Homo sapiens: one gene and its partner. The gene in region 1 interacts genetically with each later gene. Each region holds a gene or a part of one and is shown in the gene's direction. Other genes may lie near its edges.

Evidence for each region.
Region 2: changes in ZNF445 (region 1) and SPPL3 together harm fitness less than expected from each alone (positive genetic interaction), as found in Homo sapiens cells (one large-scale study listed by BioGRID).

Annotation. Positions count from the first base shown.
Region 1 is NC_000003.12:44,470,880-44,474,692, reverse strand, and holds part of ZNF445 (zinc finger protein 445), read left to right. Parts: intron 1-3,813. UniProt on the Homo sapiens protein: Transcription regulator required to maintain maternal and paternal gene imprinting, a process by which gene expression is restricted in a parent of origin-specific manner by epigenetic modification of genomic DNA and chromatin, including DNA methylation.
Region 2 is NC_000012.12:120,768,203-120,772,015, reverse strand, and holds part of SPPL3 (signal peptide peptidase-like 3), read left to right. Parts: intron 1-2,956; coding exon 2,957-3,063; intron 3,064-3,527; coding exon 3,528-3,691; intron 3,692-3,813.

The DNA of each region.
Region 1 (3,813 bases):
AAAAGTTTATTTAAGCATTCTTTTTCTGTTGTAGGCTCCAATCTAGAATTCCTCATTACGTTTAGTTGTCATGTCTACTTGGTCTGCTTCAATCTGTGACAGTTACTTAGTCTTTCAAAACACTTCTGAAGAAGTGTTTTATATTTGTTTTTTTGTTTGTTCTGTTTTTTGTTTGTTTGAGACGGAATTTTGCTCTTGTTGCACTGGCTGGAGTGCAATGGCGTGATCTCGGCTCACCGCAACCTCCGCCTCCCAGGTTCAAGTGATTCTCCTGCCTCAGCCTCTCGAGTAGCTGGGATTACAGGCATGTGCCACCAGGCCTGGCTAATTTTGTATTTTTAGTAGAGGCAGGGTTTCACCATGTTGGTCAGGCTAGTCTCAAACTCCCGACCTCAGGTGATCTGCCCACCTCAGCCTCCCAGAGTGCGAGGATTACAGGCATGAGCCACCGTGCCGGCCTTATATTTGTATTTTTATAAAGTCCCTCAATTTGGTTGCATCTCAAGTTTTCTGTCAAGTTTTACCACTGGAACCTTACTGTCTTTCTCCTAGTCATCAGTAATTATTTGGGGGAAGATAGTTTACTACTTTGCATATGAGATGCTGTTTCTCTTTGAACTTTGGTCTAAGTAGCATTCATTGATTGATCTTGCCTGCAGCAATGACTACTGTGGTGTTGGGATTTGACTTTCTCTTTCCTTCATTCCTTCTAGGCATTCATTGGATACTTACATACAATTCTCATTCATTCAAAGTATTAATTGGAATCTTTGTGAGGAAGAGTTATCCCTTCTCCCCTGTTATTTATTTATTCAATCAGTTATATTATTGTGTGCTTTGGATACTTATTTTATTCTTTGCACTAGAATGCAGTACTGTTGTTATTTTATTGCTGAAATTATTGTAGCTCTTTGACTATTGGGAGCTGTGTCTGTTTGCCCCGATTTTTTTTTTTTTTTTTAGTCCTTCCTTAGTTTTTGTTTTCTGGCACCCAAAACCCTTATATTTTTCCCTCCCCAGCCTGGCATCAGTCACTTCTCCAAGGATCCCTGTTTGTTGTTGTTGTTGTTTGTTTTAATTGGAGAATAGTATAGTATTTAGAAATCAAATTTTGGGCACTCCCATTATTAGTTTATTTCTTAATTGGTAAATGAATATAAATATTATTTTAAGGCTTTAAATATATACTGAAAGCATTTTTTGTGTGTGTGTGTGTGTGTGTGTGTGTGTGTGTGTGTGAAGTGGAGTTTCACTCTCGTTGCCCAGGCTGGAGTGCAGTGGCATGATCTCGGCTCACTGCAACCTCCGCCTCCTGGGTTCAAGCGATTCTCCTGCCTCAGCCTCCCGAGTAGCTGGGATTACAGGCATGCAGCACCATGCCGGCTAATTTTTGTATTTTTAGTAGAGACGGGGTTTCTCCATGTTGGTCAGGCTGGTCTCGAACTCCCAACCTCAGATGATCTCGCCTCAGCCTCCCAAAGTGCTGGGATTACAGGTGTGAGCCACTGCGCCCGGCCTGCATTTTTTCTTAAGTGGTGATTATCTTGGAAACCTGTTTGCTTAATATCAGTTTATATACCTTCTATACACTTACACTGGTAGGAAAACACAAAAATAAGAGACTAGCTCATGGGGACATTAAAAGGAAAACAAAGAAATTACATTGGCCATGAGGTGAAGAAACAATGTAACAGAAGAAAATCTCCTTGAAAAATATCAAGATCTTGGTTGGAAGTTTCCCTGTTCTTTTCAAAGCCATTTTCTTTGTGGGAATGAAACTGGGTTAAGGTATAAAGCTCTGGGGGGAGAGTCCTGAGAATAAGATCCAGCTCATGTTCCTTCCCAGTTCTGAGTGTAATTGTGATATAATCTCAGCAAGAAGATAAATGAAGCTTTTCTTCTATGCTTAAAAGCTAGTTGGGACTTGGGAGAAGCCTGTGGCATTAAGATACCTGAATTTCATTGGCGGGCTCAGCTGTCTGCTGAGGTAGCTGTATGTTCACTATGCTCTGGGTCTTTCATTCAGAGTTTGAGAGGCCCGTGAGGTCTTTATTCATGTTCATGATTGCAGAGGCTGAGCTAACCTTTCTTTGACTCAAGGACTGGAATCCTCACTATATTCACAGGCATTCGCCCTGAATTTTCTGTCAGTCTTCTCATCACCTCTTTACAAATACATTACTGCCAGGCAAGGTGGCATGCGCCTGTAATCCCAGCTACTCAGAAGGCTGAGGCAGAAGAATTGTGTGAGCCCAGGAGTTCAAGACCAGCATGGGCAATATAGTGAAACCCTTGTTCCCCCGTCCTCCTCCAAAAATCTGGAAGTTAGCTGTTGTAGGGGGGAAAAAAAAGTCACTGACCCTTTTGGACATTTGTGCAGCAGCTGCTTCAGAACAGTCCTGCTTGGAGACTTATTTTTGGAGCTAATTTGACTGTAGGTGTCAATTTCCTGAGATTGGTCAGTGCCATTTATATTTTTCACTGGGTACATTTCTTAAAAGTGTTTCTCTCTGGCCTCAATTTCTTTCTCTTTAACTTAATTGCCAGATTTATCTTCATCTTTAGCAGCATTTTGGTTCTTTTCATACTTTGGTTTTCTTTCTCTTCTGTCTGTTCTGCAAGTTTGGCCATGAAAGTCTCTCTTCTTTTTCTGTTTTTCAGCTTTCTCCTGATCAGGTGTTTCTCCTTCCCTTTTGTGCTGCTGGCACGCACCGAGGCTGGAGCCTGCTCCTCTTGGTCCTGAAGCTCCCACTGCTTCTCAGTCTTCGAGTCTCCTTTTATAGGCCTTCATTTATTTACTTTATTTCTTCTTTCATTTTCCCTTTTTTTTTTCCTTTGAATACTTATTCTTACTCCACTCCCCTTTTTCACAGCAAGGCTTCAGTTCTCTGCCAGAACTGTAGCAGCTTCCTCAGCATGTGTGATCCCTAATGTAGCTCTTTTCTTGCCTCTTCTTGGCCCATAGAGTAGGGCTGTAGTTTCTTTTTTATCCCTGGATGATTGCATGCCTTCTAGTGTGAGTCTTCTTTACATCTTAGTTTACTGTCATTTCTTTTGACAGTATTAGCAGCACTTGCTGAGAGCAGAGGACATTGGATAGGTATTAGTTCAGAGCAAATGTAGAAGGTGGTGGCTCTTTTAATTTCATAAGTGTCACTCCTTTTACATTTGCTTCACAGTGGTGGGAGATGGAAGGGGTCAGCATTTTCAGGGGATATGACCTTCATCTGTGACTTTGTGCACAGGGTAGTGGGGCCACTTTGCAACAAGTTCTGAGACCTGTTGTCCATCTCACACTTTTTGTAGACACTCCAGTTCTTCTCTCATGAGTCTTTAGTTTGTCAGTTCAGTGGCTATTTATGGGCATATTTGGATCCTGGAGTAGATTGATGGCTGTTACTGATGGATCTTTTCCACCAATAATGTCTGGGTACTTTTACTTCTAGATAAAGAAGCTTTTAGGGACAAGAAGATACTGATGAGATTGCTCTCTAGACTGAACCAAGAGTCATATTAGAGAAATTCTGGATGCAGGTGATCTGTACAGAGTCAGCTGATCCTGTGTCTGTGGAACATTAATGGCAGCACTGCTTGTATTTCTCTTTTTCTTCAACTTTTATTTTTTTTCTTCCATTGTTGCTGGCTACTCCTTTTCTTTGTTTCTGTTTTCTTTCTGGATAGGTTTTTTATTTTTGTTTTGCATGTTGTGTTTTGGTAGCATTTTGCTCTTCTTGTTCTCTACCTCACTTGCCTGTTTTTTTTTCTCCTTACATCTGTTCAACTGGAGAACATCCTTTTGTAGTTGCTTGAGCT
Region 2 (3,813 bases), on another chromosome or scaffold:
AACTGACTGGTTGGATCAGGAAAGACTCTGAGAAAGGACTCCTGACCTGGCTCTTCCAGAATGAGGATGGATTTTCCATATGAAGGAGCCGGGGGCAGGACCTTCTGGGTAGAGCGTGAAAAGAACACAGTATGTGTGGAGAGCGGGAAATTGTGTTGAACTGTCTAGAAAACAGAGCCACAGGAATGCGTGTTGAGGGCTTGGGCTGTACAGTGGAGAGTGCCCTCCCTGGCCAGGGAGTTGGACATTCATCCCACCACAAGACCCCATGAAGAGTTTCTCAACAGCTCTGTGTCCTCATCAAACCTGTGTTTGCAGAACAGTGGAGGAAGAGAGCTGAAGGAGGGGAGAGGCCCTGCACCTGCCAGGCCCTGGCCTAGACTACAAGGGTGAGCACTGAGCCATGCTCTCGGGGAACCTTCACTGGAGTTGAGGGCAGTGAGAATGTTTAAAAAAAAGAAGAAATTATGTATATCAGAAGTTGAGAAATGAAAAATAAGACAAGGGCAGGAAGTATGATCTTAAATGTAATTGCAGGAAAGTCCACCTGTCATTGAGAAGCTAGTACTTGCGTGAAGAACTGTGAAAGACGAGGAGCGGAGCCAGTTGGGTTCTGGGAGGAGATCGTTCAGGCAGAGGGCACAGTAAATGCAGAGCACTGAAGCGGCGGCGTGGCCGAAGCGGCGGCATGGGGGGTAGAGTGAGGAGGCTGCTGTGGCTGGCAAAGGAAGTAGCAGGAGGTGACCTGAAGGGTCACCGTCACAGCAGGACCTTGTCAGCCAGTATGAAGACTGTGGCTTTTACTCTATGGGAAGTTGTTTAAGAGTTTTGAGCTAGGGGCCCCATAAAACCTGCCTTAGGGTTTAAGAAGCTGCTTCTGTCTGCACTGTGAAGAAGAGACTTGTTAGGGGTTAAGTTGGAGGCAGAGAGGCCAGGGAGGAGGTCATTGCAGCAATGCACGCCAGGAGAGGATGGCGGCTTAAGCCAGGCAGGGTGTAAAAGAGAGACGGGTCAAAAACGACATCACAGATTTCCGTCTGCACAATTGGAAGCAAAGAGTAAATGCTTGGAGACAGAAGACTGCACTGTTAAGAGCTGAGTTTGGACATGTTAGATTTGAGAGGCCAACTAGACAGCCAAGTATATATGTCTCTTAGGCCACAGGATGTATGAGTCTGGAGCTCCAAGAAGAGATTCAGGCTGGAAATTAAAATGTGTGAGTTGATGACATATAAGATAGATAGTGTCAAGAGCCTTGAGATTGGACGAGATCACTGAGAGAGGAAAAGATCTGAGGAAAGGCCCGTGGAGTTCTGGGAATTGAGGAGGAGCTACAGAGAAGCCTGAAAAGGCCAGTGAGTGGGGAGGAACAGGAGAGCACATTGTCCTGAGAATCAAGGGAAAAGGAGGGAGCCATTAGCTGGGCGGGTTGCTGCCTAAAGGTCGGGTAAGAGGAGGACAGGTCGATTACTGTGTCTAGCAATGAGGGGATCCTTGGCAAGCCCCCAGGAGCAGTGTCAGTGGAGTAGCAGGGATGAAAGCCCTGCTGGAAGTGATCGAGCACTCAAATGATAACATCTAATTTATGGGAAATATATGGGATAGAGGAAAAGCCAACCACTGCAATAGAGAAGCACAGAAAAATCCAGATGACTCCAGTTTCAGCAAGTCATTAAAAAAAGGACTTTAGGCTGGGCATGGTGGCTCACACCTGTAATCCCAGCACTTTGGGAGAACAGGGTGAGAGGATTGCTTGAGATCAGCCTGGGCCACATAGCAAGACCTCATCTCTACAAAAAATACAAAAATTATCCAGGTGTGGTGGCACATGCCGGTGGTCCCAGCTACTCAGGAGGCTGAGTATTGCTTGAGCCCAGGAGGCAGAGGCTGAAGTGAGCCAAGATCGCATGACTGCACTCCAGCCTGGGCAACAGGGCAAGACCCTGTCTCAAAAAAAATAAAAGTGGTGGGGTGGACTATGTCAGATTGGAAACCAGCACAGACAAACCATCTGCAAAAGATGTTTTGGGGTCTATAGAGAAATTTGATTAAATGAGGTGAAAATTCACCCAAATGGAAACTGGGGGTTGTTGGCTTTGGTGGAGGGGGGGAACAGATTGTGTGATCTCATTAGATTAAAAAAAAAAAGTATGTAAAAAATTATTGGCTGGGTGCAGTGGCTCATGCCTGTAATCCCAACACTTTGGGAGGCCAAGGCAGGTGGATCACCTGAGGTCAAGAATTCGAGACCAGCCTGGCCAACATGGTGAAACCCCATCTCTACTAAAAACACAAAAATTAGCTGGGCGTAGTGGTGGGTGCCTGTAATCCCAGCTACTCGGGAGGTTGAGGCAGGAGAATCATTTGAACTCAGGAGACAGAGGTTGCAGTGAGTCGAGATTGTGCCACTGCACTCCAGCCTGGGTGATACAGCGAGACTCCATCTCCAAAAAGAAAAACAAAATTCTAGGAAGATATTGAACAGTGGTAATCTCTGAAAAGTGGGAATGTAATTTTTTTATTTTGCTTTACTGTATTCTCTAGTTTTCTATAACGCAGTTAATGAATTGCTGGGATGATGCCTCCAGTGAATGAAAGGGGGTGCTATCTAGGGTGTGAGTTCACTTTAAAGCAGGGAGCAAGGACAACACATCCACAACATTGGAGGGAAGGCAGGAAAAGAGAGCTTGGAGGTCTTGGACTGGTTTCCTGGGTCTCCAACAGCCGAGCACTATGTCTAGGAGGAGGAAAGCAATCACCCCAAATTCCACAAGTCCAAACAGGCTGAAGAAGCGGGTGTTTTGCACCAGTTGCATGTAAGTTTCTGAAGCTGGAGCTTAGGGCTGCCTGATTTTTGAGGGAATTGCAAACTCTGTGAAGGGCCATAGCTTGTGGAAAGAGGATGAGCCTGGAGTCCACACTGACTGCTGTCTGCTGTACCCTGTCTCCTCCCCAGCACTGGCCATGGGCCTCTGTGTCGCCATGATCGCCTTTGTCCGCCTGCCGAGCCTCAAGGTCTCCTGCCTGCTTCTCTCAGGGCTTCTCATCTATGATGTCTTTTGGGTAAGCGTTTATGTCCTTGGAGCTCCTCCCCTTCTTTGTGTTGAAGTGAAGCATTCATGCCTGAAAACTATTAACTAGAAGTATCCAAAGTCGGGCTTGCCCAGCTGCTGATCACTCTCTCTCCAGTCCTTAACTGTATCATGGGTGTGCAGTCCGATCCTTTTGTTTGCTGAAAAGTCGTACAGTAGGTAGTGTGTGTGTGTGACTCCTAGGATAGAAGAGGTAACAGGCTGACAAGATTCGCTGCAGTGGGGGCCACCCCGTCAGGGAGTAATCTCTGGGTGTGGAGAGTGCAGAAATTGGCAAGTACACAGGAAGAGCAAAGATTTTCTCAAATCATACAGTCAACGAAAGCATTGCAGTCACAGCATTCTGAGACTCTGCTCTTAAGAGCAAGGAGGGCTGATGCTGAAAGCAGGTTGCTTCCAACTCCCTCTGTTAAAGGCATCTCTCCAACTCGGCAGGTATTTTTCTCAGCCTACATCTTCAATAGCAACGTCATGGTGAAGGTGGCCACTCAGCCGGCTGACAATCCCCTTGACGTTCTATCCCGGAAGCTCCACCTGGGGCCCAATGTTGGGCGTGATGTTCCTCGCCTGTCTCTGCCTGGAAAACTGGTCTTCCCAAGGTAAGACCTCATGCTATGACAGGACCACACTGTCTTCCTGTGCCTATCTGTTCCCGGCCTTGATCAGTCTCTAATGTCATCAGCATTCTGATCCCAACCTGGGGCCATTATCTCCATGCTGC